Regions from separate parts of the Homo sapiens genome. Here region 1 is linked to region 2. Evidence: fine-mapped expression QTL. A gene starts in region 2. The other region holds a variant in brackets. All regions are shown on one strand. Distances are between the middles of the regions. Region 1 has its middle 10 kb from the start of TRC-GCA22-1. Region 2 holds the start of ZNF212 (zinc finger protein 212).

Region 1 (5,379 bases), 330 kb after region 2:
CAATTAAGGAACTTGTATTTTCAATGAAACATTCTGCCATTAAAAAAGTAACAAAAAACTTCCAGGCACAGATAGTTTAAACACTTGTTATACCAAACACTTGTTATACCAATCACTTCAGAATGAAACGATGTAAGTCTTACACAGACACTTCTGGAGAATAGAAAACTAAAAGCAGCAGTCCCTTTCCCACCTCATTTTATGAGGTTAAACTTATTATAAAAAATAACAAAGACAATGTAAGAAAACAGGCCAATCTCACATATTAATATAGAATAGACTTTAAAAACCATAAGCAAAACTATTAATAAATCAAAGCCAGCATTACATAAAAAATAACACATAACCAAATTAAGATCATTTCAGAATGTAAGCTTGACTTAACATTAGAAAAATCTATTACTGTAATTCACCACACTATAGGATATAGCAAATGCTGTTGCTGCCCCACTGATATTCCTTCAGAACTTATCAGTTCTGTGCATGCAGGCCCCAATTTCAACTGTCAGCACCTGTAACTTTATGTCTGAGGGCATTCTCAGGCTGCCCAAACATGTAACAGGCTGAAAGTACCAAATAATTAGGACCCAACCTTCGAAAGCAACCCTCTACCGATGACTGATAGCAGTAGATGGAGAAATACACAAGTTGCCTTGTTCTTTTGGAGAGGATAACCCTCAAGCATGTTATACATCTTACAAAGTCCCCAACGGTATTAAGCTCCAGTTGCCTATAATGGTAACTTGTCCAATATCCCACTGTGAAAGTTGTCAGAATGAAAATGGAGTCACTTGTGTTAAAACCCGGCAAATGGAGCCAGGGAAGGCCACAAAGGTAGAGCTTTTATATATGAATTCCTGATAACAAGAACTATCACAAAAGACTGTAAAAACCACAACCTTGCACAAAGGCCATTGTAACCTTACACACTCACAAAAAATACTTCTGCAAGGACATCTGCCCAGCAAAAGCCTGACTAGCCTTGGACTGTTGCCACCCTTGTTACTGATTGCTAGAGCCAAGAATTATTTCTCCAAAACAATTTATATAATCCTTCTCATTTTGCCTTTAAAAACTTTCCCTTACCATGACCTCCTCAAAAACACACATAGTTTACTGTGACACCTGTATTCCCATTGCCAATGCTCATTCCCTAAATAAATATAATTTCCTTTCAGAGAGCTTCCGTCTGTTATTTAGGTTAACACCACCTTTTATTGGCTTCTTTCCTTTCTCTGACTTCCCACTCCTTACTGGTGTTTCCTGAACTTACCTCCCAAATAAACTACTTGCTCTTAAATTCTAGCTTCAGGGTCTGCTTCTAAGGAAATCCAAGCTAAGACAACAGATTAAAGGAAAAAAATCATGTCATTAAAATAGATGAAGAAAAACATCCAATCAAATCCAACACATCTTCATGATGTGTCTACCTAAAACATAAAAAGAAATCTTATTTAATGGTGGGATGGTGAAAGCTTTCAATTGAAAACTGAAAGCAAGACAAAAGTGTTCTTAAAGGAGAAATGGAAACTGAATTGAGGAGCAAAAGGCTATCAAAATTCACCAAATATATTTTTAAAATAAATCAACTAAGACATTCCAGAAATGAAAAGTATCAATGTTTTCCTTTTTATTTACTTTTAATTGAAATACAACTCACAGTAAGGTACAGAAATCTTCAACGTACAGCTCAATTAATTTGTACACATACATACCTATGTACCCACCTCCCAAATCAAGATACAGAAAATTTCTAGCACCTCAGAGGGCCCCCTGGGTCCCCTTCCCAATTACCCTCTCTCCCGAAAAGGTAACACTATTGTATCACCATGGACTAGTCTTGCCTGTTCTTGATTTTATATACTGGAATCATACATAGTTACTCCTTTGAAACTGTTTTCTTTCACTCAATCTTATGTCTATAGGATTTATCTGTGTTTTTCCACTGTAGTGGTACTCTGTCCTTTTAAAAACTCTGTTTGGGATTCCATTGTATGACTAGACCATGACTTATTTACCTATCCTACTGTTCATGGACATTTGTTTCCAGTTTGGGACTATTAAAAGAAATGCTGCCATGAACATTCTTGCATGTACATATACATTCTCTGATGTCTGTATCAAGGAATATAACTGTTGAGGAAGAGGGTGTTTCTATTTTTACTTTTAGCCAATAATGTCAGATGGTTTTCTAAAGTGGATACAGCAAATGACACTACCACTAGCAGGGGATGAGAGTTACTATGGTTCCACATACCATCACTGAGTAACATCAGTCTCTTTCATTTTAACCAACCTAGCAACAATTCTAGCAATAGTTCACTGTGGTTTAACTTGCACCTTTCTAGACTCATGAGGTTTGAGCATCTTTTAATAGGCTTATTGGTCGCTTGGATGTCCAGTTGTATGAAGTAACTGCTCGAGTCTCTTCGTCATTTTTCTACTGAGTTGTGTATTTTTAATTGTCTTGTGCAATTCTTTACATATTTTGGGTATAAACCCTTCATCAGTTATGTGCAATAGATACCCTCTCCTGCTGTATGAGGTTTTATTTTCTTACTTGTGTTTA[T/C]TGGCTCTCATGAATGTCAGCTGATTTCCCTGCGAACTTTTTAACTGTTCAGCAAACAGTATACAGAAGTTACTACGTGCCAGTCCTGTCTTCAGTGCTTTACACAGATTAACTCATTCAATCTACACAACAATCCATCAAGTAGACACTCTTATTACCCACATTTCACAGTAACAAAGTTGAAGAAAGGGAAGGGCAGTAATCTGCCCAAGGTCTTCTAGTGGGGTAGGCCTTGAAGCCAGGCTGTCTGACTTCAGAATCCACACCATTGGTATCCACGCTGCACTGTTTCTCCCAGGCTTATTGTACTTGTCCAAACTCTATCGATAGGCATTCTTTGAAGCATAGTTCCTGATGCAGTCTGGGGAGGATTTTCATTTGGCCAGGAGCCTATAGCACTACACATCCAACTGCAACATGAAATAAGTTGCCTGTAGTTTTTCAGACCCAATAAAGACTGTGAATTCAGGGCCCATTAAACCCCAGTCACTCAGCCCGTGGCTAGGGATTCTCGGGACTGGTTTTCTTTTTCCTGTCTTCTCTTCACTCCTTCTGGAAGAGCTCAGCCCTTCTTGTATCCTGTCTTTGTGCAAGGCAGTCTCCTTCCTGATTCCTCACCATGTGTGGGGCCTAAGACTTCTTCCTAGAAATGCCCGTTCATCACTGTACTACTGACACCTGGCCTCCAGAATCCAAACAAGTCCCAGCCTTCCTGGACTCAGGCTGCTGCCCAGCCCTGCCAGCAGAGCGTTCTGTGCTCCTGCAGGCTCATCAATTCTTTGCATCTTCCCTGGCAGTCCACCCTACTGCCAAAAAGGAAAAGCAAGAGGATTTTAACATTATCATAGAAATCATGGTGGAAGTCAGTGTTTCCCCAGGCTCTTGGGCCTGCAGCAGAGAGAAGTGGCTGGCTGTTGACTGCCTTCTGAGAAGGCTGCCAGGACTACAAGGCAAAGTCCTGTGGGTAAAGGAGAAAATTCCAGTAGCAGGGAAAGGCCGTTTACAGAAGAAGAGTTTGCCAGCTCCTGTGACAAGAGCAGAAGTAGGGCCTTGGCACAGCTGAGGAGGTGAAAAGGTATAACCCAAGTGTTACTCCAAGTATTCTTTCTAGGTGGGATGGGGCTCTGTCTGTCATCAGAAAAGGTCACATGGGATGCTGGAAGCAGTGGCTCATGCCTGTCACTCCAGCACTTTGGGAGGCCAAGGAAGAAGGGTCACTTGAGGCCAGGAGTTTCAGACCAGCCTAGGCAACATAGTGAGACTTCATCTCTACAAAAAAATAAAAAAGATTAGCTGGGTATGGGGGCACCCACCTGTGGTCCCAGCTACTTAGGAGGTTGAGGTGGGAGTATTGCTTCAGCCCGGGAGTTAGAGGCTGCAGTAAGCTATGATTGTTTCACTGCACTCCAGCCTGGATGACAGAAAAATACCCTGTCACTTAAGAAAAACAATGCAAGCCAAGTGGAGTTGTTCTGTAGCAACAGTTTTTGGTCATGAAACTATGGTAACACTGGCCCTATTAATGCTTTTGGGAAATCTACTCAGCTACACACTTCTCACTATTTCTTGGAGTTGCTCCTTCTCTATCATTCTTCATTTGTATTAACTGAAGAAGTAAAAGTTGAAAGAATCATCTTTTGTCCTAGACTGCAGTTGTGCTGAATCTGCCCTGAATGGAATACTGGGCTAGGAGAGCCAGACCTAACTCTGTCATTAAGTGTGTTAGGATAGACACCTCGGTCACACAGTTTCTCTTGTACATGCCCACCATAACAGGTACTGGAGGTTGACTCTCAAGGCCATTCTAGCAGCCACTGGCAGTGCTTTTCCAGGCTGCTGCCCGCAACCAAGGACTCAAGGCAGCGAAGACACAAGATCCAGGGTATTTGAGAAGGGGACACTGCCTCTTGTTATGCACAAGGTCAATGAGTTTTCACTGAGGTAGGCCTGGCAGCTCCTAGGAGCTTCCATTGCGAAGTGGCAACGCATAGGTCATCTGGGTGTGACTGTACAAGTCAAAGACATTAATTGAACCCCACAATAGCAGGAGGGGGCATAGCTCAGGGGTGGGGTGTTAGACTACAAACCAAGAGGCCACCACTTCGATTCCAGATACCCCCTCCGCATTTTCTATTTTGACATTTGTAGAAAGTAAAAAGTTTTGTTTTCAAAGTTTCTCTTTTTATTAAAAAATAAATCATAAGTGTTAAAAGTAATAGTTTCTTTTAAAAAACTAACTTCTTTCAAGCCTCTTTGCTTTGTGCCGATAACTCTTTATTAAACCTTATCTTATGTAGCTGTTACATATAAAAGAATAAGTACATTCTATGTTTTGTACTTTAACCAAGATATTTGTGCTAAACATGCTTACAAGCACATTCTAGCTCGCATCCTGTGTCCCTTCCTCATTAAAGAATGTTATTACTTTTCTAAGTCTTTTCATAAGCAACTTCCTCTTTTCCTTTCTTCTCCATTACTTTTACCTATTTTAAAAAGTTTTAAATTGGAAGCTAATCAAATTTAGTTTAAATTATAAAGTCTAGCTCCAGCCAATAGAGACAAGACACAGTAGAAAAGACAAGCTACATAAAACATAAATGTGCTCTGGCCATTATTCCATCTGCAAAGAGCCCCCTTTCTACACAAAGTAAAATTGCCTTGCTGAGAAAACTTTTTGTCTAAATGCAAATTTTTCCTTGCAGTACCAAAAAACAAACATTTTATTTCTAAATAAACATTTTACTTATAACAAAATGGTGGCCCGTACGGGGATACATTCTCTTCCTCTCTCATGAAGACACGCCCCACTG
Region 2 (5,379 bases):
CTTGAATTCACTCATTTAATTCACACAACTCTATGAGCTAAGTACTGTTATCTATTCACCAATAATCATGAGGAAACAAGTACTAAGAAGTTAAAGACCTGACCAAGTTTCACATCTAGTAAGTGGCTGTGATGGTGAATACTGAATCAACTTGATCGCATTGAAGGATGTAAAGTATTGATCCTGGGTGTGTCTGTGAGGGTGTTGCCAAAGGAGATTAACATTTGAGTCAGTAGGCTGGGAAAGGCAGACCCACCCTCAATCTGGTGGGCACAATCTAATCAGCTGCCAGCACAGCTAGAATATAAAGTAGGCAGAAAAATGTGAAAAGACTAGACTGGCCTAGCCTCCCAGCCTACTTCTTTCTCCCATGCTGGACCCTTCCCACCCTCGAACATCAACGAACATCAGACTCTAGGTTCTTCAGTTTTGGGACGCAGACTGGCTCTCCTTGCTCCTCAGCTTCCAGATAGCCTATTGTGGAGCCTTGTGAGCATGTGAGTTAATACTTAATAAACTCCCCTTTATATAACATTATATATATATCCTATTAGTCTGTCTAGAGAAACCTAATATACTGGCAGTGCTGGGCTAGGGACCCAGACGGTCTCACTCCCCAGCCCCACTTAGCAAATCACTGTGCCACACTGTCTTCATCAGCCCGGGGGACTGCAGGCGCCACACCATCTCCACCAGCCCACGTGATTGCAACCCTGGTGCCTGGTGCTGCCTCCTTTGCAGGCTGGAAATTTGATCTGAACCTTTTTCCAGACTTCCAGGCTCAGAGTCTGGGATGCTGAAACATGCTCATTTTCAAGAGACTGAGGTATACATGTGCATCAGCTTCACCTGCATGTTGCCTCCCAGAAGCTACCTGGCAACATGCAACGTCAGAAGGTTGCCTTGTGAGTATAGAAATAGAATAGAGGGAATGAGTTCTACGACCGAACTGTTTAATGACCTCAGCATCCTATGTCCTGATATTGTGCCTGTGGAGGATAACATTTTTATTTTATTTTTAAAGACAAGATCTTGGTCTGTTGCCTACGCTGGAGTGCAGTGGTGCGATCGTGATTCACTGCAGCCTTGAACTACTGGGTTCAAATGATTCTTCCACCTCAACCTCTTGAGTAGCTGAGACTACAGGTGTGCACCACTACTCCTGGCTCATTTTAATTTTAATTTTAATTTTGTAGAGACAGGGTCTGCCTATTTGCTCAGGTTGGTCTCAAACTCCAGTGATCCTCCTGCCTTGCCCTCCCAAAGTGCTAGGATTACAGGCATGAGCCACCTCACCCATGACACATTTTTTTTTTTTTCTGTATCTGACACCAAGAGTTTGTTGGTCTGAGAGATTAGGTCAGACCCTCTGGACAGGATCTCCCTGACTGACCGGTTTCTTCAGCCTGGCCCATTCTTTCTCTAGATTTATTAATGATTCAGTGACGTGCCCGTTGATCTAGTTGCCCTGGAAATAATGCCTCTGTTTGAGATGACATTTCATATCCTTACACTCTGATTCACCATTCAATCATTTACAAATATGAACACTTCTGTGTACAACAAATGGAGGATACAGTAGACAGACATTTCAGTGGAAGAGATACAGATAATTAATATGTAAATGAGTGAAAAAGAGAGATTACTTCAGATGGTGATAAATGGTATGAAAAATTTCCAGCAGGGTAACGAGATTGAGTATTGAGATGGAGGATGGTGTGGGGCTGTAGAAAGGGGGGACTGGGGATATCTCTCTGAGGATGTAGAATCTGAACTGAGCCCTGCATGTGAGGAAGGAGCCAGTCATGATCTTAAAAGTTTCGTTCTCCGCCGGGTGGGGTGGCTCACACCTGTAATCCCGGCGCTTTGGGAGGCTGAGGTGGGCGGATCACCTGAGGTCGGGAGTTTGAGACCAGCCTGACCAACATGGGGAAACCCCGTCTCTACTAAAAATACAAAATTAGCCAGGCGTGGTGGCACATGCCTGTAATCCCAGCTACTAGGGAGGCTGAGGCAGAAGAATCGCTTGAGCCCGGGAGGTGGAGGTTGCAGTGAGCCGAGATTGCGCCATTGCACTCCAGCCTGGGCAACAAGAGCGAAACTCCATCTCAAAAAAAAAAAGTTTCGTTCTCAGAGGAAACACTTCACGCCTATCCTGTGAAGTGGAAGTTCATTGCTTGTCTCCAGAGAGACAATGGTATAAATTAGGCAGCTATGGTTGCCGTAGTGTTGCTGGTATTGGGGATTAAGTACATGGCGATTAAATGGTCATGTGGCCGTGCTTTCCAACAAAAATTCCAGACACATCGTCTTACATGTAGCATGAGGACTGGAAATATTTGAAATCAGGGTTGTCTTGGACTTTCCAAGGCACATGATTACCATAATTAACAGGCTACAGAGGGCTGGCCTGGGCCTGACCCCACGCTCCACACTGTTGATATGGAAACTGTTCCCAGTTTCTAAAAAGCCAAATAACAGGTGAACTTTTGGAATAAAATCACTTGCCTTTTGGAACCATATTTCTTTTCCCCAACAACATTACATGTTCTTTCCTCAGCAAAAAGTCTGAGTTGTACACATTTTTGAATCCCTCAAAGCATTTAGCAGAGTGCTGGGCATACGGAAGACAGCAGGATCCCGTGGCTTTGCCTGAAACGCGGAACCTGGTCTTGACTTTTGAGTGACTGAGCCCTCCTGGTGCCCGCACTCTGGCCGGGAGTGCCAAGCAGCGTTCTCCCTCCCGCCGCACGGGGGCACAATGGGAAGCCTGCACAGTGAGGAAGAGCGGCTGGAGCCGGTCTTGTGCCGGGGAGGTCGCTGCTCCCAGAATGCACCTGGCATCAACACGGCGGCGGCGGCGGCGGCTTCCAACAGGCTCTGGGGCGCCGAGCGGACAGGAACGCAGCACGGGGGCTCCGAGGCGGGGTCTGGGTGTTGAGGGGCGACTGGAGCCATGGCGGAGTCGGCGCCTGCTCGGGTAAAGAGGCACCGGCGCGCTGGCTCGAGGGCGCGTTGGGGATGGCGGAGTCCCCTGCCGGGGGCGGGGCTTCGCGGTTTGGACGCCGCCGGGGTCTTGGTTTCCCGGGGCTGCCGTTGGCGCGGGTGAACGCGGACCCTCCTCTTCGCGACCCCAGTGCTCTGCCCTTTTTTCCCTCCGCTTCCTTCTGCAGCGGGGTCGGAGCCTCGGCGCCGTGCGCCCTTGCCCAGAAACTTCTCTGACGCTTGCTTTAGGTTGGTGGATTTGTGACCCTGCCCACACATTTTCTCTTTCGTGCCAAAAGAGCCCGTTCCCAGGTTGGAGTGTTTCCAGATTGGAAACGGTCTCCGTCGCTACGAGTGAGCTCTCCCGCTGCCCGGGAGACCCCAGGACTTGCCTCTCTGCGACCACCTCCTCTTCGGTCCGATGTGTTGTCGGTTTTTCCAGTGCTGCAGATTTCTGTCTGGGGGTTGCAGCCACAGGTTGAAGTCAGCCTGGGCTGCTTCTCCTTGGGGACGGATGTTATCTACAGTGCAGTTGCTGCATTTTGTTTGTAGAGCTGCCCAAACTCTCTCCTTCACCCCCCCCCCAACACCCCCCTCCCAGCCCACCGACCATCCCCATTCTGGGAATGTCAAGATACGGAGTTTGGTGTGAGGAAAATCCTATTTGTGGAGTCACGAAGCTTTCAGCTGTCCATTTGGGTGATTTTAGGCAACTGTGTTCGCTTCTCTGGGTCTCTTTCGTTTTCTTAACTGTAAATCGAGAGTGTTGGAGTAGTTGCTAGATGATCTCCAAGGCTTTAAGTTTCCTTCCAGCTCCGACATTCTCATACTGTTCCCATACTGTTTCAAAGTAGTGGTTAATTTAACAACACCAGAGGGTTTGCAACGGAAGGGGCAGCTGGAATTGAATTGACTTTTAATGAAGTGTTCCTTGGTCTAGAAACACTTCGAGAATCATGTTAGATCTTTGTGAGAATGGAGGGCTAAGGAAATTCTGTGGGGAAAATTTGACCATGAGCAGGGTGCGCTATATTTGATTCTTGTAGAAAGTGCGTTAAGAACTAAGAACGGAGAGATTGGGAGACTTAGAGAACACAGTATTTGCTTTCAAGGAAGTTAACAGTTGAATTGGGAAGACAAGACACAAATGTTTACAATATTAACCTCATCTGACTCCTATAAGCTAGGCTGAGCCAGTCAAAGACTTGGCTTTTCCACAAGATCTAGTTAGTGTTAGAGTCCGGCGAGAGGATTCTGCCACAGTTCTTCCTGCCAGGTCACTCCACAATTACCTACATGTCGTCAGTAGACCTTGTTAGGAAGAAGCCTTAAAGGTCCACCACAGGCCAGGCGCAGTGGCTCATGCCTGTAATCCCAGCACTTTAGGAGGCCGAGGAGGGCGGATCACGAGGTCAGGAGTTCAAGACTAGTCTGGCCAATGTGGTGAAACCCGGTCTCTACTAAAAATACAAAAATTAGCCGGGCGTGGTGGCGGGTGCCTGTAGACCCAGCTACTCGGGAGGCTGAGGCAGAATAATCGCTTGAACCTGGGAGGTGGAGGTTGCAGTGAGCTGAGATCGTGCTATTGCACTCCAGCCTGGGTGACAGAGCAAGACTCTGTCTCAAAAAAAAAAAAAAAAAAAAAGTCCACCACAATCCCAAACTATGCCTTAAATAACATGAATCTGTCGTTGTAGAACTTATTCAAATTGTTCTTGAGCCTGTTTCTCTTCTCAGACATTTCAGGTGTCTGTCATTTAACAGTAAGCTCAAGTAGGTGCCCTGATGAAACAACTGAAAATGCTGGAAAACCCTGCACATAAATGCATTTGAAATGTATTTTAGTAAAGAATACTTGGAGCCCCAAAACTTAAGCGAAAGAGGAAACTCGAAAGTGATAGAGTTCTGAAGCCAACTTTGAGGGCATTGGCCAAACATTCATCTTTGGTGTTTATGATTCAAGGGACCTGCAAAATGGAACACACATCTCAGAGCCTAAGATGGAAAGTCTAAGAAGCTCCCTAACCCAATCCCATGAAGCAGAGAGTTCAAAGGGTAACATTCTGTGTAAGGGTGAACTGAAAGTAAGGTCTGACCTTCAGATGATTGCAAAGTAAGTTGTTAAACCTTGGCACTGAGATTACAGGCGTGAGCCACCGTGCCTGGCCATAGTTTCGTTTCTTTTCTTTCTTTTCTTCTTTTTCTTTTCTTTTCTTTTTTTTTTTTTTTTTTTGAGAGAGTCTCGCTCTCTTGCTCTGGCTGGAGTGCAGTGGAGCAATCTTGGCTGCCTGAAACCTCTGCCTCCCAGGTTCTAAGCGATTCTCCTGCCTCAGCCTCCGGAGTAGCTGGGATTACAGGCATGCGTCACCATGCCTGGCTAATTTTGTATTTTTA

The links. PIP is the estimated chance that this variant, and not a neighbour inherited with it, causes the effect.
Region 1: its variant is the best candidate, but not a certain one, in a credible set for the expression of ZNF212 in whole blood (TOPMed, PIP 0.55).

What each region holds. Positions count from the first base shown.
Region 1 is chr7:149,564,027-149,569,405 of GRCh38, forward strand. It overlaps the pseudogene ZNF767P. Among named protein-coding and RNA genes, the nearest start is that of TRC-GCA22-1, 10 kb to the left of the region's middle. The variant T/C (reference allele first, on the strand shown) is at 2,570.
Region 2 is chr7:149,236,823-149,242,201 of GRCh38, forward strand. ZNF212 (zinc finger protein 212) reads left to right here and starts at 2,829. Exons shown (of 5, transcript NM_012256.4): 1 at 2,829-2,980. The coding sequence starts at 2,957. RefSeq lists an enhancer at 2,596-2,890.